Homo sapiens: one gene and its partners. The protein of the gene in region 1 interacts with the protein of each later gene in a biochemical or structural test. Each region holds a gene or a part of one and is shown in the gene's direction. Other genes may lie near its edges.

Region 1 (7,492 bases):
GCTGGTCTCAAACTCCTGCCCTCAAGTGATCCTCTTGCTTCAGCCTTTCAAAGTGCTAGGATTTCAGGTGTTAAGCCACCGTGCCCAGCCACAAATCACTTTATGATGCTGTTTAATTATATGAATCCTATGAGGTCTTCTATAAGGTCTCTAATAGTGTATGTGACTAGGATAGAACTGGTGTCAGAAACAAAACCCAAAAACAGAAACTTTCGTATGTCTTCTAAAATTCCACTAAGGAAGATGTGTCTTTCACTTAAGATCCCAAGTCACAAAGCCCATAATCACTTTTTTTTTTTTTTTTTTGAGATGGAGTGTCACTTTGTCACCCAGGCTGGAGTGCAGTGGCACGATCTTGGCTCACTGCAACTTCCGTCTCCTGGGTTCAAGCAATTCTCCTGCCTCAGCCTCCAGAGTAGCTGGGATTACAGGCGTGTACCACCTTGCCCAGTTAATTTTTTGTATTTTTAGTAGAGACAGGGTTTCACCATGTTGGCCAGGCTGGTCTTGAACTCCTGATGACAAGTGATCCACCTGCCTCAGCCTCCCAAAGTGCTGGGATTACAGGTGTGAGCCACTGCGCCCAACCTCCATATTCACTTTTGATGACACGTTGAGTACTTTCTTTCTCTGACATGATACTGAGTACTTTATTTCTCATTTACATCTTACCACAAAAACTACTGGATTTCATCATTTTTGTCATTTTTACTTATGAGGAATTCAAGCCTTAAAAAAGCCAAGCATTACTTTGCCACCAAGAAGGAGGCAAAGTACAAATGGAAGCCCTGAGCTTTCTGACCTCAAATCCTAGGCTCTTAACCACCCTGCTACCCTGCCTTCATTCTTACCATGATCTCATAATTTGTGCTTATATAGGCTGCATTCAGCAACCCAAACTGACTGGTTTCCTCAGGAAAACTGTCAGAGCTACAACCAGTGCATTGAGAGGATCCGATGGACTATGTAATTTTATGGACTGAATGATATGAAAGGCCTCAGGAAATGTGTATCCAACACTTTGGCAGGTGTAAAAGAAGACCTACATATTTCAAAGCAGTTACAGATGCAAAATACGTCCATAGAAATATATGTTCCACACACTTGGAAGGCTAAGGCAGGAGGATCGCTTGAGCCCAGGAGTTCGACACCAGCCTGGGCAACATGGTGATATACTGTCCCTACAAAAAAATACAAAAATTAGCTGGGCCTCATGGCTCACACCTGTAATCCCAGCACTCTGGGAGGTCGAGGTGGGTGGATCACCTGAGGTCAGGAGTTTGAGACCATCCTGGCCAACATGGTGAAACCCCATCTTTACTAAAAATACAAAAATTAGCTGGGCGTGGTGGTGGGTGCCCGTAATCCCAGCTACTTGGGAGGCTGACATAGAAGAATCACTTGAACCCGGGAGGTGGAGGTTGCAGTGAACCGAGATCATGCCACTGCACTCCAGCCTGGGTGACAGAGTGAGACCTTGTCAAGAAAGAAAGAAGAAAGAAAAGAGAAAGAAGGAAAGAAGGAAAGGAAGGAAGGAAGGAAGGAAGGAAGGAAGGAGAGGGGGAAGGGAGGGGAGGGGCGAGGGGAGGAGGGGAGGGGAGAGGAGAGGAGAGGAAAGGAGAGGGAGAAAAAGAGAGAGAGAGAGAGAAAGAGAGAGAGAGAGAAGATGGGGAAGGTCCCTTCTGGGTTTCCATCTAAAATCAAAGAAGAAATCATTGGTTTCAATAATAATATTTTAAAATCCACCCTATGATTTTTTTTTCTTTAAAAGAAAAATATCAATCTAAGAAAATAATACCTAACATGGTGTTAATGAAAAGTAGGTTGGATTGGTTATGTGTACATAAGAACTTAAAGCTCAAAGGAAAAACAGCACGTATACCAGCATGTTGACCTGGCTCCGCTGACAGCCAGGATTACCAGTTATTTCACTTGGTGTGTACCAGTGCTACTTGGAAACTACCCACCTTCCATGAGCAGGTCTACTCAATAAAATCTTACTTTCATGAGGCTGTGAGGATATCCAAATGGGGACATTTCTTATACTCAGAAGACCACAAGTCACGAATGTGGCCACTTCTGATTCTGACTTCAGGGGTCACCCAGACCCCAAGCCACCCCAACCCGATAAAGGCAAGTTCACCTTGGGCAAAGTTCAGAGCCAGCAGCACAGCTGAAAGGCAGTGGACAGCACTTTCAGATGCTGTATTCCAACATTTCAACTGACATGAAGTGAGGCAAGAGGGGAAATAACTAACAGTAATCTGATTAAAAAACAAAAGAGAAAAAAAAAAGGGCCTGGTGTGGTGGCTCATGCCTGTAATCCCAGCACTTTGGGAGGCCGAGGCGGGTGAATCACCTGAGGTCAGGAGTTCGAGACCAGCCTGGCCAACATGGCAAAACCCCATCTCTACTAAAAATACAAAAATTAGCCGGGCATGGTGGCACGTACCTGTAATCCCAGCTACTAGGGGGGCTGAGGCAGGAGGATTGCTTGAACCTGGGAGGCGGAGGTTGCAGTGAGCCAAGATTGTACCACTGCAGTCCAGCCTGGGCAATGGAGCAAGACTCTGTCATTAAAAAAAAAAAAAAAAAAAGGACTGGCCTGGGTTTACAGGTAGCTCACACCTGTAATCTGAGCACTTGGGGAGGCTGAGGCAGGAGGACTGCTTGAACCCAGGAGACCAACCTGGGCAATACAGCAACACACTGTCTCTACAAAACATTTAAAAAATTAGCTGGGTGTGGTGGTACACATCTGTAGTCCTAGTTACTCAGGAGGCTGAGGCAGGAGGATTGCTTAAGTCCATGAGTCTGAGGTTGCAGTGAGCTATGACTGTGCCACTCCATTCCAGCCTGGGTGACAGAGTGAGATCCCATCTCTAAATAAATTAATAGACCATAAATTCTGTAATGTGAATCTTTAGACAAAGACTGCTAAATCTATCATCTGATATATGAAGTTTTATTACAACAAATGTTTATATATTGAGTTAAAAATTATCTGTACCCATACACACAACCTGCATTTACTTAATTTAAAAGGAGTGTCAATATTAAAATTGAGGATTTTGGCCAGGTGCGGTGGCTCACGCCTATAATTCCAGCACTTTGGGAGGCCGGGTAGATCATTTGAGGTCACAAGTTTGAGACCAGCCTGGCCAACACGGTGAAACCCCGTCTTGACTAAAAATGCAAAAATTAGCCGGGCATGGTGGTGTGCCCCTGTAATCCCAGCTACTGGGGAGGCTGAGGCGGGAGAATTGCTTGAACCCGGGAGACAGAAGCTGCAGTGAGCCGAGATCGTGCCACTGCACTCCAGCCTGGGCAACAGAGCGAGAACCCATCTCAAAAAAAAAAAATTGTTATTTTGTTGTTATTGTTGTTTTTGAAGACAGAGTCTCACTCTGTTGCCCAGGCTGGAGTGCGGTGGCATGATCTTGGATTGTGTTCTTCCAGGGTTGCAGAGAGAAGTGCAACAGCGTCTCATTGCAACCTCTGCCTCCCAGGTTCAAGCAATTCTCCCGCCTCAGCCTCCCAAGTAGCTGGGATTACAGGAGTGCACCATCACACCCAGCTAATTTTTGCATTTTTAGTAGAGATGGAGGTTTCACCATGTTGGCCAGGCTGGTCTCGAACTCCTGACCTCAGGTGATCCGCCTGCCTTGGCTTCCCAAAGTGCTGGGATTACAGGTGTGAGCCACCATGCCCAGCCTAAGAATAATAACTTTATAACTATGAAAAATGTGTTACATATTCACCATTTTGCCAGCATTAATCTCAAAGCATAAGTTTTACCTTTTGGGGATAAAGAGATAGATTGTGTTTTAGCCATATGACCAATGTAGAAACAAGCTAAGGTTAACTCCTCATCTAATGAATAGGCCCGATAAAAAAGTTGGTTGACCACAACATGAATAAATAAATAACCATAAGCTTGGAAATGCTACCTGTAGTATTTCAGAGTGTCGATCACATTTGTAGTCATCACTTAAAGAATTAATGTCTGCCAATGTTATCATCTAAAATGTATTTACAGAGGTCAGAAGAGCTATGTCTGTCCTCCTCTATGCAAAGAGGTGATGACATCAAGGGGTATGTCACAAGCCAAAGTTTAGTTAGCCTAAGTTAGTTAGCTGGTTTGCAGTTTTTATCCACTAAGTCTGATCTTCTGACCCCTCAGTTTTACAACTTTCCACTCTCTGTGCTGCATAGCACCTCTCCACTTCTGAGTTAATCATTTCTTTGCCATTATCTGGCAAGAATTCTTATCTCTTTTGCTGTCACTTTATAACAGGGTCCTCTTATCAACCTGCATAGAGTCATGTGATGAGTCAAAGCCTATCAAAAGTTTCCATTCTTCTGATTAGAAACCATCATGAAACTGGATACATGGTTTACAGCAGGTCACTAATGTTGGAAAAAGTACAGAGTCCAGGGAAAGACTTGCTTGTAACTTTATGAATTCTGGATTTTTTTTTTTCCTTTGCTTTTTCTTAACTTTCACTAAGGGTTACTGTAGTCTGATGTGTCCTTCCCAAGGCCACGAAATTTGACAAGCTGCACTTTTCTTTTGCTCAATGATTTCTGCTTTAAGCCAAAGAACTGCCTATAATTTCACTAAGAATGTCTTCTAATTCAGATACTGGGGATTTACAAGAGTCTTTAAAGCACGGACTTACACCTATTGGTAAGTAGGAGTTTCTCTATTGATCATCTATTTATTCTGCTACTACATACATATAATTTAATCTTGTTGATGGATTTTGCATTTTAAGTCATGGCTTTTCCTATTATGTTTATTAAAAGCACACAATAAGCCTATGTATATATATCACACATTTATCTTTCTTGCAGTTCAAAAAAAGCAAATGGATATTTCAACATATGAATATTATTCATTATATCTAGTGTTTACTGGTGTCATTCTAATACCCTAATCAGCCAGAAAATATAATTTATACTTTATCAATTTCAACTTTAATATTTTCTGATAATTTTTAATCAGAAATAATAAGCTAAAATTTGAACAATTTGAAACAAGTTAATCATATTGAGTGATCATTGATCAAACTTTAACAGATAGCTGTCAAGTATTTGTTACTTTTCAACCCACACAAAAGTATGGTGTCTTATTCTCTGCTTATACCGTAAAAAATTTTCATTTTATTTTCCTGGGGAATGAAAGTCATGCCCCCACCTCCAAAAAAAAAAAAAAAAAACCAAAAAAACTAGACCATCATTAGTAAAGGATTTGAAGAGCTACTGTTTCTCGCAACAATTAGTATATTTTGTTTTTACAAACAGAAATAAGTAAATAAAGCTACTATTCATTTAAAAAATAGAGTTACAAACTTATGAATTTTATAGCAAGACTACATTCAATTAATTCTAAAAGTAAAGGACTGAAGGGAAGTGATTCCCAGTGATCTGTAATTATTTGTCTGTTGGAAGTCAGGCCCTTCTGCCTTTCCCCAGTTTTTGAAGGACCTGTGCCTTTTCTGGCAGCATTTGCCTAGGCTTTCAGACTGGAATTTCCCTCCGAATTTGCAGGGGCCTGTCATGAGCTCTCTGAGTCTCAGCTCCATTATAACAAGAAAGAAAATCAAGGCTTGAGTTTTTCCTCTTTTTTCCTTCCTAGTCAGCTGACTCCACAGAATGCAGTGGAGTCACAGATTGCTTTTTTTATGGGCCAACTACACCCTAAAGTATATCACTTGAGGAAATGTTTACCAAAAATGTTCTATACTTACGAAAAAGAAAACATGGGGAAGGTAAGCAGGGTGTAACACACAATCAATTGTTCTGCAGATAACACAGAAAATACAGGCACAAGAAAGATGAGAGAGCAGCACACAACCATTTCGCATCTTTTTCGTCGGGCAGAACCGCCGCGGTGCGCAGGCAAGGAGTCCTTCCCGGCAGCTCCGCGCAGCTCCGGTTCCGCGTCCGGGGCCGCAGCTAGAGCGCGCTCGGGCCGGAGACGCGGACTGCGCGCGCACGGGGGACGCGCGCTCGGGGGCTCGCGCCCGCGCGGGCGGTCTTGGGCTCCTGCTGCGCGCAGCCCCAGCTGGCCGCTGCCAAAATAGAGTTGAGCTGGGTCGGGAGACCACGCACGCCGATCCCTCACAGTCTCCCCCACACCCCATGGGTGAATTAAAGAGGGTAAGGTAGGGGAAAGAGACGCTGTTGCACTTTTCTCTGCAACCCTGGAAGAACTGTGTTTCCAGCTACCGCACGCGCAACTCACATCGCAAGGGACCGAGGCGGTACACTCTGAGCGTAAACAGAGAACACCTGCAGCTCTGGAATCGGTCCCACCGCAGAGGGCTGGGAACCGGAGGACTGTCGGTCCAGCCCATAAGGGGCTGCTGGGGACTAAACCTCAAGAAAAGTACCGAAGAAGGCTCTCCCCTGGCCTCAGCGAGACTACCCCAACATCCTAAACCTGTGCAGGCACTTCCGGGCGCCGGATTCCGGGATAACAAAATTCCAGTCAATTTGCCGGTAAAAGAGACCTCTTTCAGGATCTTGTTCGCAGCCACCCGCCCCTTCCCAACCCAAGCACATCCCCTCCGCCTCCTGGTATTGCAGCCCCGCAGGTGGTTGTGAGGTGTCCGCACCTGCAACATCTTAGTGACCCTGAGGCGGCTGTGGCACCGGGAGACAATCTGTTTACCTCGTAGCCTCCACGAGGGTGCTAACGGTCGTTCCCAGGGTGAATGGCTGGACGGAGCCATCCAAAGGGCTGAGGGAGAGGAACAGAGGGCGGTGAGGAGCCTTCGGACTGAACTATTGGATTGAAGGGCCTGACCCGATTCCTGAGGGAGAGATGCCCCTTGAATGGGTCTTTCTGATTGCCCAGGGTAGCCCCACTGGGAAGAACCCACGGGTGCAGCTGTAGAGAGTGTCTGAGGGTCTCGAGGGTAGCTTTCAGATGGCAAATTGCAAGTTGGGCTGTGTTGAGTGGTTCACAAAACCGAGCCCGGTGTATGTAGACATCAGTCAGGGTTTACAATTCTATATTTAATTCAGTTGTGTTGTACTAGGAAATGAGCCTCCTTTTGTTTAAAAAGCTGTCTCCATGGTTTTTAACTAGGGGCTACATCTTGTATGCACACTGATGGTTACATGAAAGTTTTGTATAGATGTCTGTGCTTGTATAGAAAAGCAGAATTAAGATAAAGTTGTTCCTTCTGCCTACCTGCAAGATAATCATTCATTGTAGTGTAAAAGCAGCACACTCAGGTTATAACTAGATTGTTCCCTTAAAGTTAACTAACTCTGGGACACTGGCCAGACTCTTGGTTTCTGGTCTTGGTTTACTTCTTTCTCCCAAGTGGGATGATTCTATTGAATAATATGCAGTACTAACTTTAGAAGCTTTTTATACTTACCTATATCAAGAAAAGAGCCATATCTGTGTGGTAGGAAATGTTATACATAAAACAAATATTTATTGACCACTCCCACAGTGCCCAATATTATGCTT
Region 2 (7,921 bases), on another chromosome or scaffold:
GGGGAGGGACAGGGCTGCTCCAGTCCTGCCCTTGGGGAATGTGCAGCCTGGTTCTATTCCCAGAGTCAAGGACACTCTGCAGCCAGTTAAGTGTTGTAGCTCTCTTCCAGGGCCTGCAGGAGAGGAGGCTCTGAGCACATAGCTGAGCCCCAGGGCACTCAAGCTGCACACTTGAGGGAAGCATTGTGGGAGCCTGTGGTTTTTCCAAGAAAAAGGTCTCCTTTGGGTCCTGGGGGCAGCGGGAGGGCAGAACCTGAGGCCTTGGACAGGTCTGCATGACCCACCCAGAAATGCCATCAGTTTATTTTACAGGAGTCCCTGTCAGAGCTTTTGGGGCAGACCTCAGAGGAGTCTGTCCAGGGCCTCCAAGCCCAGGCCCTCAACATTCCAGGACGCAAAATCTCTACTCTCAGCACTAGGGAGTAAGTAGGATGCTTCCGGAAATTGAGTGGACTCCATTGTCTGGTGCCATTTCCTGTCCACCCCATTCCTCCCTAGGGTTGCAGGCTTAACTGTAGGTGTTGGGTAAGTCACTGTCTCACTCTGTTCTTTACTCTCCTGATCGGTAAACTGGTGTAGTGGGTGGTAAACCCAATGCCCACAGGGGCCTTATTACATTGATTTCCTCACTCTCCCTGTTGCCGGCTAGACTCACCCCATTCAATATGCAATTGGCCTCTCCTCAAACAGCCAGTTACCCCCCAGGGAACAGGTATCAGTCTTCCTCAGCCTTTGTGAGCTACACCCCTCACTGTGCAGCAATCTTTGGGGTTCAAGTAGCTCTTTGGTAGAGGGTGTGTTCAGTGACTCATGATAAGCCTGCAGGTGCCCACATGGGTGTGAGCCTCCAGGGGCAAAGCTGGCCATGGAGGCTCAGAGAGGGCTGGAAAGAACTCGCCCAGCTCACCACAGAGCCCAAGCTGGAATGAGACCACGAGCGTCATCTAGGACCAGAATCACCCATGTCAACAGTCATCTGACCCCATTATATACAGATGGAGAAGTGGGGGAGGGGAGACTCAGGCTCTGAGCAGTCTCTTCCCACAGCCTGGCCCCTCTGCCATAACCTGGGCAGGTCCCAGCTTGGCTCCCACAGCAGTGAAGGATATGCAGGGCCAGGCAGGGGGGCAGGGGGGCAGGGGGGCTCTGGGAGTGGGGAGGGGTTTCAGTAGCCTAGGCAATGGCTAGAGTGGACAACCCAGTTTTCCTGCCCAGTGCCTGCCCTGCCATCCACGGCTGAGCTCCGGGCACCGAGGGCATGGCTGGACAGGACAAGCGTCCTGGAAGAGGCCCTGCCCGTGCTGGACGCCTGCCCGAAAAGGCTCGAAACCCACAGAAGCTGCCTCTCAGTCTCTAAGAGGCTTGGAGAGGAAGCGGGGAGATGCGAATTCCTATCTCCCAGTTGGCAACGCCGAGGTCGGGCAGGGGCCGGGCTGGGTGACCTGGAAGGAATCCTCCGCTCTGGGCGCGCCACGCAGTCCCGGGTGGGGCTGTCCCGTGTTAGCCCTTCCGGTGCCCGGGACGCGCACCTGGCGGCATTCCTGGCCAGGTGTCTGGACTGGGGGCTGAGCCCAGCCTGTCCCCGCCGCCCCTCCCTACCTCCCGGGTAGAGCGGGCGCGGCGCATGTGACCCAGGGCTGGGCTCCCGGGAGTTACGCGCTGACGCCGCGTCACCCCACTCCGGGCCGGGCGCCCATTGGCTGCGCCGGGCCCGCGGGGGCGGGGCTGGTCTGGCTCTGCGCCCCGGCTCCCCTGGGTCTCCAGCCGCTGCCCTGGCCCGCGCGCGTGCGGAGCCGCCCCGGCTCTCCGGCTACCTCCAGTCCAGACAAAACCAGGGGCAGCAGTGCTGTGAGGTCCTGAGCAAGTCGCTTCACCGTCCCGCTCCACGTGCCTCAATTTACTCATCTGTAAAATGGGATGGTAACAGCCTCAACCGCCTGAGGCTGTCGAGAGGAGTGAATGGGTTTAAACCGCACTGAACACTCTGTAAGCGCTCAGCAAGTAAACTGTGCCGAACCTGCCCGCCGGGGTCACCGTGGACCAGGCTGGATCCCTGACCCCTGATAGGCACACCATTACAGAGGGGCTTGTGTCCACGTTCCTTGGGCGTGCTCAACGCTCCCCAGCCAACCGGGGCCCGAGGGTCTTGTTTGGAGGTCTCAGGATCTTTGAGGAGAGAAACTGCCAAGACAAGCATGTTCCCCCTGAAAAATGGATCCCCTCTTCTGTTTTCCCCTACCCTCACGTTGAGGGTTGCCCTGGTAATCCCAGGCTGTGGGGCAAAGATTTGTTTCTTTGGTGGCAAAGATGTAAATTCTTCCCACCCCCACGTTGGACTGTGCCCCATGGGGGTTGGATTTTCTGGGGTGCAGGTCTTCTGTTGACCTTGTCTTACCTTCTTTCCCTTTCCCCTAACTCCTGCAGTTATGGAGTGAATATTTATTGAGCTATTCTATTTACATATGTGGTAACCCATTTAAAAACGGTGAGGCGGGTTGGGTGCAGTAGCTCACGTCTGTAATCCGAGCACTTTGGGAAGCCGAAGTGGGTAGATTACTGGAGGCTAGGAGTTCGAAACCAGTCTGACCAACATGACAAAACCCCATCTCTACTAAAAATACAAAAATTAGCCGGGCGTGGTAGTGCATGACTGTAATCCCATCTACTCGGGAGGCTGAGGGAAAAGAAATGCTTGAACCCGGGAGGCCGACGTTGCAGTGAGCCAAGATTGTGCCACTGCACTCCAGCCTGGGCAACAGAGCGAGACTCTGTCTTAAAAACAACAACAACAACAACAACAACAACAACAAAAACAGTGATAGCCAGGTGCAGTGACTCACACTTGCAATCCCAGCACTTTGGGGGGGCCGAGGTAGGTGGATCACCTAAGGTCAGGAGTTCAAGACCAGCCTGGCCAAAATGGTGAAACCTCATCTCTACTAAAAATACAAAAATTAGCCTGGCATGGTGGCGTGCGCCTGTAATCCCAGCTACTCAGGAGGCTGAGACAGAATTGCTTGAACCTGGGAGGTGGAGGTCGCAGTGAGCCGAGATCATGCCGCTGCACTCCAGCCTGGGTGACAGAGAGAGACTTTGTCTCAAAACAAAAAACAAAACAAAACAAAACAAAAAACAGTGAGGCAGATCTGTTGTGATGATGACTCCAAAACACCCTCCCTGCCTCTGCAGAGGGACTGCAGAAAGGGTTATTCCCATTTTATAGATACAGTAGCTGAGACTCAGAAGTGAGGTATTGGATCCAGGTCACACAGCAAGCAGGTGAAAACCCAGATCACCTGCCTAGCTCTGAAGAAAATGGTATTTAGGCTTCACCCAGCACTTCCTATCCCACCCCCTCCCTGGGAAGGGCTGTTTAAATTTTCAGGGAAGTCACCAGCTTCCTGCAGCCTCTAGAGTGTTGGTGGGGGTGGGGCACTGAGGAGAAGCCAGCTTTGTTCTCTGTGTTCTCCAGCAGTTGTTCATCTGGAGGGAGTGGGTCCTGGGTGGACCCTTGAGCAGGGCTACTTGGGGAGATGTGGTTTGGCGACCCCTATGACTTCTGGCGCCGCTATTCTGGGTAATTTTCCACCGCAGCCACTTCTGGGAGAGGAACAAAGGGAGCTGGATGTCCAGGCTGAGCCCCAGGGACTTGGGCTCTGTGGCTTCTCTCCCCCACACACCCCTTCTAAAATGCATCATGAATGTTACTCCTGCTTAGGGCGTGGCCAGATAGGCTATATCTGGAGTTTGAGCAAGGCAGTCTGCAGGATGGCTTGACTTATGAAGGTCTGGGGTCGGGAAGGCCTGAGGCCCAGGCCCCTGATGAGTTTCCTGGACTGCCCTCCACCAAGGGTGCTTCTCTCTGCTTGCATACCTCTGGGGACAGGGAGCTCACTGCCTTATCACATTCAGATTCCTGAATGTTAATTCTGGTTTATTTCAACCCACCTCATTGGGACCCCTTCCCTCCTTCCTGCCCCACCTGGCTCTGTCCCTAGGCCACAGAACCAGGTTCGGTTTCCAGCCCTCTTCTCAACAGGGCTGCCTGCTCTGATCTAGTCCCAGCTTGTGATGATCCAGGGCAGCCTGGCTCTGATCTAAAGCACAGCTACCTCTTCCTTGCGGCCCCTATCCTGGCTGCTCCTGGGAATAAGTGCCAAATCTGGGGTCAGACAGCCCTGGGGCCAGTCTTCCTTGGGTACTGGCTTCCTCCTTCAGGAGCTGCACTGGGCCCACTGGTATCCTATCCCTACAGCTGGATCTGGGAGGAAACCAGATGACGAAATTCCAGCCTCTTTCTTTGGCCACTCCTGTCCTCAAGAGGCCAATCTTCTGGTTTCTTTGCAGAGAGGGGGCAGGCTGATCTCACAGGTCATGCTCCCCTCCACATTGTCACTAGCCTCCCAGCCTGCCCGTGAGAAAGCATCATTAGGCCCATGTTACAAATGAGGAAAATTGAGGCAGAGTGATGTAACTGGCCCAGCAGTTACATCAGGCCTGCTCACAACACAGCAGGCCTGGGACCCCTATAACTTGGATCCTGGTCTGTCTTGTTCTAAAGAGTCAAATCTAGGAAATGAGGAAATGAAGTTTGGGATGGGCCCAGGCCTGGGGCTTCCACTCGGCTTCCTTGCTTGGTGCTGGAGAAACAGAGGCCCAGAGAGGGGGCTCGGCTTGCCCGCGTTCCCGCAGCAGCCGGCCAGAGGCCGCTGCCATTGTGCGCGAGGCTGGATAAAATGAATGACTGGAGGGCGCTCTGGAGGAGGGGCCGGCTGAGGGGAGATTTGTGGCGCAGACCGGGGATCAGGGGTCCCCCGCTCTCTCAAGGTGGGGCGGGGCCGTCTATCTGGGAGGGCGGGTCCTCCCCGAAAGGCCCCGCCTCCGCCTCGACCGCCCAGCAGAGCTGCGGCCGGGGGAACCCAGTTTCCGAGGAACTTTTCGCCGGCGCCGGGCCGCCTCTGAGGCCAGGGCAGGACACGAACGCGCGGAGCGGCGGCGGCGACTGAGAGCCGGGGCCGCGGCGGCGCTCCCTAGGAAGGGCCGTACGAGGCGGCGGGCCCGGCGGGCCTCCCGGAGGAGGCGGCTGCGCCATGGACGAGCCACCCTTCAGCGAGGCGGCTTTGGAGCAGGCGCTGGGCGAGCCGTGCGATCTGGACGCGGCGCTGCTGACCGACATCGAAGGTGCGTCAGGGCGGGCAGGGCTTGAAGCTGCGCCGGGTGGCGCGAGTAGGGGGCGCGCAGGTGTCTCCCTGGCCTTTGTCTCCCCCACGGGCGCCAGCTCCGTGCTGTGCTCGCGCGGGACTTCCCGGTGTCTCTGAGCTCGGTGTCCCGAGCCTCACCGAGCCTCCCTGGTTCCCGCGCTAGCGTCTCGGGCCGCGCGCTTGTGGGTGAGGGCTCCTGGGCCGGGCCGGGGTCCCTTGGCGGCTCCGGGCCGGGACACGTGCGCCTCTACGCGTCCCAGGCCGGGTGCCGCCCGACCGGTGACTCTCCAGCCCTGTGATGGCCACGGCTGAAGCTGGGGACCCAGGCGTCGCCGAAGCTCCGCCCCAGCCCCAGCCGTGACGTAATTGCGAGGTTACTCACGGTCATTCCCTCCGGCCCGAGAGTTCAGCTCGGCGTCGGAGCTCTTGCGCATGCGCATGGGCGCTGCCTCGCGCCCTTCCCCCGCCTCGTGTCGGGTTCTCCCGGTCTGCGACGGGCACAGCCTCCGCACTCATTCACTGACATCCACCGAATGCCAGGCCCCGTCTTAGGCACCGAGGGTTTACAGACAGACCTGGGTACCCCCTCTTTTAGGGAACACAAAAATCTCCCGGGAAACCAAACGGGTATTTAGTTGTACCTTGGGTGGAGCGAGGCTGGGGGAGGGCAGGGATGTGGCTACTTTGGGTAGAGCGGTCAGGGACTTCTAAGCTGAGACCTGAGGGTCACCCCCAGGACCAGCAAGGAAAGATGTTTTCCAGGCCACGGCAAGGGAAGGGCAAAGGCCTCGAGGCAGGGCCTAAGTGTGAGGAGTTAGAGGCTTGCAAAGGAGTGAGGTCAGGGAGGAGGAGGACGCAAACCGACTTGGTCGGCCAGGGAAAGGGCGGAGCAGAACAGTGGCACCGGCTTCCATCTTTGGAGCATCACCCTGGCTGTGATGAGAAGGGGTTTGGGGCCAATGGTGGCACCAAGTGCCAATTAGGAGGCCCGTTGCTTCCATTTTGTAGATAGAGCAAACGGAAGCCCCTAGCAAATTGCCTGCATGGTTTCTGTGCAGGAGTTTTAGCAGCACTAGCTAAGTTGCACTTGGTTGATGAGGAAACTGAGGCCAAGGTCGCAGGAACAAGATGCCTAGACTCACAGCCTGAATGGACATGTCCATGGAACCCGTGGCCACCCTGGGGTTGGCAAAACAGATATATCTATGCCACCACCACTCCTGCCCTACTGCAGCCTTGCAGATGAGCCCAGCTGGTTGCCAGCCCCAGAAGCTTCCCAGCCCTCCCTCCTTCCCCCTGGGGCTGGGCTAGGGGAGGACCCCAGAGGAGAGGCCCTGATTGTGAGGCTTTTCCAAAACAGCCTCCCCTATCCCTGGCACGAGGGGTTGTCCTTCACTGCCCTCTGGAGTGATGAACCCTGAAATCCCAAGCCCTAGGGAGATCTGGGCCTGACTCAACTACCAGTTCCACATCACTGGGCCCAGTGAGTGTAGTCCCAAGAGGCAACGTGACCAAGCCAGGAGGACATGCGCTTTGGGGTCAGAACTTGAACCTGGACACTCCTCACTTCCTTTGTCATCCTGCTCAAGCCCTCTCACCCTCTAAACCTTAGTTTCCACCTCCAGAAAAATGATGCAAACCCTCCCTTCATGGGCAAGTTGGACAACAGAACCCGTTCTGGGCCACAGGTCTGATACAGACCTTTGTTTGTTTGTTTGTTTGTTTTCTGCAGTGGCGCAATTTTGGCTCACTGCAAGCTCCTCCTCCTGGGTTCACGCCATTCTCCTGCCTTAGTCTCCCAAGTAGCTGGGACTACAGGCGCCAGCCACCACGCCTGGCTAATTTTTTGTATTTTTAGTAGAGACGGGGTTTCACTGTGCTAGCCAGGATGGTCTCGATCTCCTGACCTTGTGATCCGCCCGCCTCAGCCTCCCAAAGTGCTGGGATTACAGGTGTGAGCCACCGCTCCCAGCCCAGACCTTTCTTACTGACAGAATCTGGTCTGGGCCAGAGGTCTGATACAGACCTTTCTTACTGACTCATGGATAAAAACATTGTCTCTCCAGAACCAAAGGCCAGGCATGGGCAGCCATGTGGCCCAAGGTCTAGTCTATGAGAGAGTGGGGGCAGTCCCAGCCCCTTGAAGACTGGGGGCAGCCCCTTCTCACTAGGCAGGGCTCAGCTTTACCCACTTCAGTAGAGGATTTTTCAGTTTTTATTCAAACTTCCTGTTTTTCTTCCCAATTACACACATCTTTTTTCATTGTAGAAAACTTAGAAAATGCAAGTGAGCAAAAAGAAGAAAATAAAATCTTTAGACCTGGGGTGGTGGCTCACACCTATAATCCCAGCACTTGGGAGGTCGAAGCAAGAGGATGACTTGTGTCCAGGAGTTTGAGACCAGCCTGGGCAACATGACAAAATCCTGTCTCTACAAAAATAAAAAATTAGCTGGGTGTGGGTGACATGTGCCTGTAGTCTCAGCTACTCTGGAGGCTGAAGTGGGAGGATTGCTTGAGCCTGGACTTAGAGGCTGCAGTGAGCTATAACCATGCCGTTGCACTCAGCCTGGATGACAGAGTGAGATTCTGTTTCAAAAAAAACTTTAAACCTACCACCCAGAGATAAGCCCTGCTAATTATGTGAAAGAGCTTTTCTTCTCTCTCTCTCTCTCTCTCTGTGTGTTTATATGTGTTTGGGGATGGGTGCACACTCTTCAT
Region 3 (7,477 bases), on another chromosome or scaffold:
TGTCTCTGAGTGACACTTTTTAAAATTTTCACTTCGATGTGTTTTTTAAAAGATTAGAGCAAAACTAGTGATTTTTATATATTTATCTGATAGCCAATAATTTACCAGATTCTCATATTATTCTATACTTTTTTTTTAAGGGGCTGGGCAGTGGCTCAACTCGAGGCAGATCACCCACCCACTTCCAAGATCCAACTATAAGCTTTTTAACTGCAGCAACTTAAGTATACGCTACTAGAACTGGAATTAATCATTCTATACTTAAAACAAAAAACCCTAGGGTCTCCTGGATTTCTGGGACATGCAATTGTCATCAGTAAGAAGGAATTTCAAAATAAAGGACTCCACCTTTTCTAAAATTTATGCCAATTACTTGATTTCCTTGTCTTGTTAAATCCTCCTAAATTGTGTGGGACATTACTAACCACAGCAAGCATCTGTGTCTGGTTCTTGATTTTTAGTGAAATGGCTTTTAGTGTTTTGTTGTTTAGAATGATAGTTGCTGTTAGTTTTCTTTAGTTGAGGTATACATAATAAAATTTAACCTTTTAAAGTGTACAGTTTGATGAGTTTTAACAACTACTGATATCAAGATCAAGAGCATTTCTGTCACCCCAAAAAGTTCCCTGGTACTCCTTTGCAGACATTCTTTTATATCTTTACTTCAGTTTAAATAAGATACTTGCACTTATGCTGTAACTCCATTGTTAATATTTGCACAAGGCTGGGCACAGGGGCTCACGCCTGTCATCCCAGCACTTTGGGAGGCGGAGGCAGGCTTGAGCCCAGGAGTTTGAGAACAGCCTGGACAACATAGGGAGACCCCATCTTTACAAAAGAAAAAAACCTCAACTTTGTTCATAATAAGCTCAAAGTATCCCTTTTTTTTTTCTTTTTTTTTTTTCTGAGACCGAGTCTCGCTGTCACCCAGGCTGGAGTGCAGTGGTGTGATCTCGGTTCACTGCAACTTCCACCTCCAGAGTTCAAGTGATTCTCCTGCCTCAGCCTCCTGTGCAGCTGGAATTACAGGTGCTTACCACCACACCTGGCTAACTTTTGTATTTTTTAAGTAGAGATGGTGTTTCACCATGTTGGCCAAGCTGGTCTCAAACTCCTGACCTCAAGTGATCAGCCCACCTCGGTCTCCCAAAGTGCTGGGATTACATGCCACTGTGCCAGGCCTACAAAAAAAAGTTTTAAGTTAGCCAGATGTTGGTGGCACATGCCTGCGGTCCAGCTACTCAAGAGGCTGAGATGGGAGGACTGCTTGAGCCCAGAAGGTCGGGCCTACAGTAAGCCATGATCCTGCCACTGCATTCCAGCCTGGGTAACAGAGCAAGACCCTGGCTCAAAAAAATATATTTTTAAAATTTAAATTTAAAAATTAAAAAAAACACATTTGCACAAGTTCTATATAAACAGAAACCATATCTATATTACTCACCCCTGTATTTCTAGCACCTAGCATAATTCCTGGCACATACTAGGCCCTCAACATTTGCTGAAATGATGAGTTAATTAATGAATAAACCAATCAACCAACCAACCAATTCACCTTGGAGCTTGGCTCTATTCCTTAATGTTCCCTGATGCCAATTGCTTTCTTGCCTTGGTCTCCCCAGTCTGCCTTCCCCCTGACTCCCCACTGCTGGACTACACCTGCCTACTAGAGAGCTATCCAGTGCCCTTAACTGCATTCCTTTACCTATTGGTTTTTCCTTCCGAGTTTAACTACAAAGTGGGGTGCTATCTAGTGGGGTTAGCTTTGCTCAAGGAGAAGCTTAACAACAACAACAACAACAGTAGCTGTTTCCAGCAATACATAGAGAAAAGCTAAAATTAGGACAAGGGAATCCGATACAAAGGCAGGAAACTTAATAACTATCTGGAGTGTTAGTTCTGGAGGAGCTAGGCCAAGATGGGAACTAGGTCAAAAGTCAGAAGAGGTGAAGAGACCACAGCGAGAAACAACAAAGCTGGGAATTAACTAAGCGGCCTATTCTCTTTACAAGGTACTCAGCCGGAGAGCCAATCTTTTTTTTTTTTTTTTTGAGATGGAATTTTTGCTCTTGTTACCCAGGCTGGAGTGCAGTGGCGTGATCTGGGCTCACTGCAACCGCCGCCTCCTGGGTTCAAGCGATTCTCCAGCCTCAGCCTCCAGAGTAGCTGGGATTACCGGCATGCGGCACCACGCCCAGCTAATTTTTGTGTTTTTAGTAGAGACGGGGTTTCGCCATGTTGGCCAGGCTGGTATTGAACCCCTGACCTCAGGTGATCCGCCCACCTCAGCCTCCCAAAGTGCTGGGATTACAGGCATGAGCCACCGCTCCCAGCCCAGAGAGCCAATCTTCAAGGGACAGAGTTGATCAGACAACGGCCCGCCATCTTATGCCAGCCTACCATCTTGTGCTCTGTCTGCCTCATGAATTCCCATCATCATCTGCAGAAACGTCTACCCACAAGCAGTGGCTCTGTTTTGAAGGATATGTCTCTGTCTCAGTTCTCTCCAGGTGCAGCACCAACTCCCCACCACTCACTAGTTAAGGTGGCATTTGCAGTTTCAGAACTGGTTGCTTACTTATTCAGAATTGGAGGAAAAGGTCAAGAAGTTGAGCTGTGAAATGCAGAAAAAAAAGTGAAGAAACTCAGTTTTCTCTCAAAACAAAAAATAAAGGAGTTAAAATATACAAAAATGCAACTGAAATCTCTGAATGTAATTCACACTCTAGTATGCTCTTTTAAAAAAAGATGAAAGCACAGAAGCATACATAAAGCATTCTTTGTAAGCTACTCTTTGCTTACTAATAACAAATGTAGGTAAATTGGGCAGATGTAAATAAGGCACCACCACAACACGTGAGCGCCAACCACAGAGCCAAGATCCGCACACTAAATACGGGAAGTTGTAAAAGACTGTGACAGACTGTCACTAAAAAACTTGTCTTCAGGAATTCGGACGATTATCTGAAAAGATATTCAAAGTTCAATTTTGTTGGAGGAAGCAATAAGGAAGTGGGGTGTCTATGTCAGAGACGGGCGCGGGTATGCGAGGGGGTAACGTATAGAGTAGGTTAAAGAGACGTAGAAAATATTTCCAAAGGCACAAGTTTAGCATGAGGGACTTCCCTCACAGGAAAGACACCTGGTGTTTTATATGTCCTTCTGAGCACAGACAGGGTATTTCTATGAAGTTACAAAGCTGCAATCCCGTTCTCATGTGCAGCACCACAGGTTTTGCTTTCAAATATCTGCAGGTGCATCCTCCTGCACTCGTTAAACTAAGGGTTTTCCTTTTCTGTGCTAGACCCGCTTTTACGACCACGCTCTCCACCTGATTCACAGAAAGGGTTCTACGACCGTCAGGTCACCGCCGCCTTTGTACTTTATTGGGGAGTCGAAGGCCTCAGCGCTGCTCGCGATTTCCCTAAGGTGGTCGGGAAGGTCCCAACCACGTTCTTCTGTAAACCAGATAAGGAAGGCCTGGGGATTCCGGCCGCGGAAAGGCACAGAGGAGGTGAACGCTCCGGCTGCCCAAGTGACGCACTTGTAGGCGGATTCGGAAACTCGTGCTCTTGAGCCGGAGGCGGAGCCCCCAGACTCAGACCGACCCCCCAGAACCGGGCGGCCTTGCCCGAGGCATGAAGGCTTTCTAGGCCCGCTTCTAAAAGCTGTGTACAATGGAGACTCCTGGAATAGGCACATATCTCTACTGTAATCAGAACGAGATGTAACATCTAAGACGCAGGGCAGGGCTCTGGCAAAGACACGCTGGGGGAACGTGAAAGAAAGGGCCAAAACTACGCAGCTGGTCCTCAGAGACCAAAGACTACGACCCCCAGCATTCAATGCAGTGAACCCCTAGGACGTTGCATGCCGGGAGCTGTAGTTTCTCACCACCGCCACCCCCCCGCCCCCCCGCCATCTGAAAGGGTTCTAGGGGATTTGCAACCTCTCTCGTGTGTTTCTTCTTTCCGAGAAGCGCCGCCACACGAGAAAGCTGGCCGCGAAAGTCGTGCTGGAATCACTTCCAACGAAACCCCAGGCATAGATGGGAAAGGGTGAAGAACACGTTGCCATGGCTACCGTTTCCCCGGTCACGGAATAAACGCTCTCTAGGATCCGGAAGTAGTTCCGCCGCGACCTCTCTAAAAGGATGGATGTGTTCTCTGCTTACATTCATTGGACGTTTTCCCTTAGAGGCCAAGGCCGCCCAGGCAAAGGGGCGGTCCCACGTGTGAGGGGCCCGCGGAGCCATTTGATTGGAGAAAAGCTGCAAACCCTGACCAATCGGAAGGAGCCACGCTTCGGGCATCGGTCACCGCACCTGGACAGCTCCGATTGGTGGACTTCCGCCCCCCCTCACGAATCCTCATTGGGTGCCGTGGGTGCGTGGTGCGGCGCGATTGGTGGGTTCATGTTTCCCGTCCCCCGCCCGCGGGAAGTGGGGGTGAAAAGCGGCCCGACCTGCTTGCGGTGTAGTGGGCGGACCGCGCGGCTGGAGGTGTGAGGATCCGAACCCAGGGGTGGGGGGTGGAGGCGGCTCCTGCGATCGAAGGGGACTTGAGACTCACCGGCCGCACGCCATGAGGGCCCTGTGGGTGCTGGGCCTCTGCTGCGTCCTGCTGACCTTCGGTGAGTGATTCTGGAGGAGCAGACGTCCCCCCTCCACACACGCGGCCGCTTCTCGAAGGTCCTGGGGGCGTTGAACGTGGGAGGGGGGATCCCGGGGCCTGCGGTGGGCCAAGGGACGTCACCATTCCTCGAAAGAGGGCAAGGGAATTACGTTTATTCTCTTCTTCCTCTGGAAATAAAAAAAGAGAGCAACATCATCTAACTGCCCTACAGATCTAATAGTATCTCGCCCGGAGGTCTCAGCGACCTCGGGGTGGGGCCTCTCTGAGGCTCTGGCTCCCCCGGGAGCTGTGCGAGTCCCTCCCCCCTCCCCGCCCGGAGGACTTTTTCGGCCACCGCAACCTTCGGCCATCCCAGCTTTCCCGTCCCCTAATTCCCCAGACTCCGACTCCTCGCAAGCCCGTGTCCCTTCTTAGATGCTGGCCTCGGGAGCGTGAGGCCTGGGGCCAGCGGAATGGCAGTGTCAGCGTGTTTGATTCAGTTTTGCTGGAGTTCGGTTCTTAACATTTCTCCCCCTTCTCATGCCTCTGGGCTCAATTTCAGTTCCCCTCGCCAGAGGTTGCATAAATCCTATTTGCATTCTGACCTGTGCTAACGAAGGCCGAAGTTTTGGCTTGATCAGTTGGGAGGCCTTGGCTCGGCCTGCGCGCAACACGTGTGGGTGTAGAAGAGGCCTGGTATCAGTCTGCTTAACGTTATTTATAAATGATCGGAGACACACTGTTTAGAAGTGGTGACTGCCTCCGTATTTCAGGATCTACTGGAGACTTCAGCATCTGAACTTAAATAGATGTTCTGTCTTGGCTTTACCTTTGGTATTTAAACCAGGGAATGCACTCTTTCATCCCCACCTCCCTTAGTTACCAACTGAATTTTGCAACCCCTACCCTTCCCTATTTGATCATCCTCCTTGGAGAAGTGTGATGTTGAAGAGTTTGCCCGTGTTAAATCTTCAGGGTCGGTCAGAGCTGACGATGAAGTTGATGTGGATGGTACAGTAGAAGAGGATCTGGGTAAAAGTAGAGAAGGATCAAGGACGGATGATGAAGTAGTACAGAGGTTTGTGTTCATTTGAACTTACGTATACAGATAAGCCGTGTGAACCTTGTGAGTTACGGTCACTTCTTATGTATCTCTTCTCCAAAGGTCCAGATAAAGTCTAACACCCTGTATTTAAATACCCGGTGAGTTGTGTGCATACATACCTCCTAACTTGTCCCTAGGAGTGATGAAAACTGAGTGAATTCCTTTGAAAACTATATTGCAGAATACTAGCACCATAAACTTTGTAAGACTTTATAGAAGATACTTTCAGTTGGATTTGTATTCATTAACTGTGTACACCGAGTAAGTTTAAAAATGGGATTTCTGTCAGTTGAACAATATTTTAAAATTTGGCCTCTTGGGACTTATTGACAGTTTTGAAGTCCTCACTGTGGAGCATAAATGAGTATGACTTTGCTTTTTAGTAGAGGAAAGTTGGGATTTTTTTTTTTCTGGCAATTTTAAGAACCGAGTATTTCCAGTGTAATGTTAAAGGTAGCCTACTGCTGTGCTAACATAATGAGACGGTATATCAGTTATATTTTATAAAGGTTTCCATTTTAACCCCCAAGACAATATTCAGAGGCCCCTGTGCTTTCATCATAATTCCTCTAGTTTTGAAGGGAACTATGCCATGCAATATTTGCTTACCTAACTGATTTCCTTAGAGAGGAAGAAGCTATTCAGTTGGATGGATTAAATGCATCACAAATAAGAGAACTTAGAGAGAAGTCGGAAAAGTTTGCCTTCCAAGCCGAAGTTAACAGAATGATGAAACTTATCATCAATTCATTGTATAAAAATAAAGAGGTAAGCAACATGTGGTTAGAATATTTTATCTCTGTATGGTGGCATACTTGTTTACTTAAATTTGCTTAATTTACTGCAAAAGTAATGTAGTATCCAAGTAAGTAGGTAACAACCTTTAAATACCTAATATGTCCAAGAATTGCTACCAGATATCTGGGAAGAAAGGGAGTGTCAGACATTTTCCTTTTCCTTTACCTCTAAATAGGTTCACGGCCTGATAATAGTTGTGAGTCTAAGGGCAGTCACATAAACTAAACTTCTTGCATTGCATACCTGAAGATCACTGTTAGGTGAATAAGAGTGCTTTTATAAGGTACAGAGAAGAAATAAATGGGTTTGGCATAAAATCGAATATCTTAATGCATCTTGAGGATAGTCTAAGTGTATTCCCTCTGGCTTCCATTTAGATTTTCCTGAGAGAACTGATTTCAAATGCTTCTGATGCTTTAGATAAGATAAGGCTAATATCACTGACTGATGAAAATGCTCTTTCTGGAAATGAGGAACTAACAGTCAAAATTAAGGTAAGTGTAAGGCAGTTTTTCTTTCTTTTAAAGGAAAAGGAATCCTTAAAGGTAGAGGATCCCTATCAGTCAAGATAGGCTAGATTATTTTGCAGTGGCAAAAAAACCCCAAGTCTCAGTGGCTTGAAAGTCATCAAACTATGGCCAAATCTAACTTGACTTGTTTTTCTAAGTAGTTTTATTGGAATGCAGCCATGCCCATTTGTTTATTATCTGTGACTGCTTCTGTGCTTCAACAGCAGAGTCAAGTTGTTTTAACAGAGAACATAAATCTCCCAAAGCCTAAAATATTTACTGTGTGGCCCTTTACAGAAAAAGTTTGCCAGCCCCTGGCTTAAATCATTGATCACAGGCTGCCTGTGGTCTTTGCTCTGCCTCATCCTCAGGCTGGGACAGAGGCGTGGGCAGCCACCTGGAGTGTGTAGCCGGTTGCCATGGTGCAGAGCAAGCTTAGAGGGTCTCATACT

The links.
Region 2: the proteins of NR5A2 (region 1) and SREBF1 form a complex in vitro, tested with the Homo sapiens proteins (one study listed by BioGRID).
Region 3: the proteins of NR5A2 (region 1) and HSP90B1 form a complex in vitro, tested with the Homo sapiens proteins (one study listed by BioGRID).

What each region holds. Positions count from the first base shown.
Region 1 is NC_000001.11:200,023,222-200,030,713, forward strand, and holds the start of NR5A2 (nuclear receptor subfamily 5 group A member 2), read left to right. Parts: upstream 1-4,488; 5' UTR 4,489-4,626; coding exon 4,627-4,690; intron 4,691-7,492. UniProt on the Homo sapiens protein: Orphan nuclear receptor that binds DNA as a monomer to the 5'-TCAAGGCCA-3' sequence and controls expression of target genes: regulates key biological processes, such as early embryonic development, cholesterol and bile acid synthesis pathways, as well as liver and pancreas morphogenesis.
Region 2 is NC_000017.11:17,833,987-17,841,907, reverse strand, and holds the start of SREBF1 (sterol regulatory element-binding protein 1), read left to right. Parts: upstream 1-4,921; 5' UTR 4,922-5,090; coding exon 5,091-5,181; intron 5,182-7,921.
Region 3 is NC_000012.12:103,925,933-103,933,409, forward strand, and holds the start of HSP90B1 (endoplasmin precursor), read left to right. Parts: upstream 1-4,477; 5' UTR 4,478-4,583; coding exon 4,584-4,632; intron 4,633-5,588; coding exon 5,589-5,691; intron 5,692-6,344; coding exon 6,345-6,486; intron 6,487-6,893; coding exon 6,894-7,010; intron 7,011-7,477.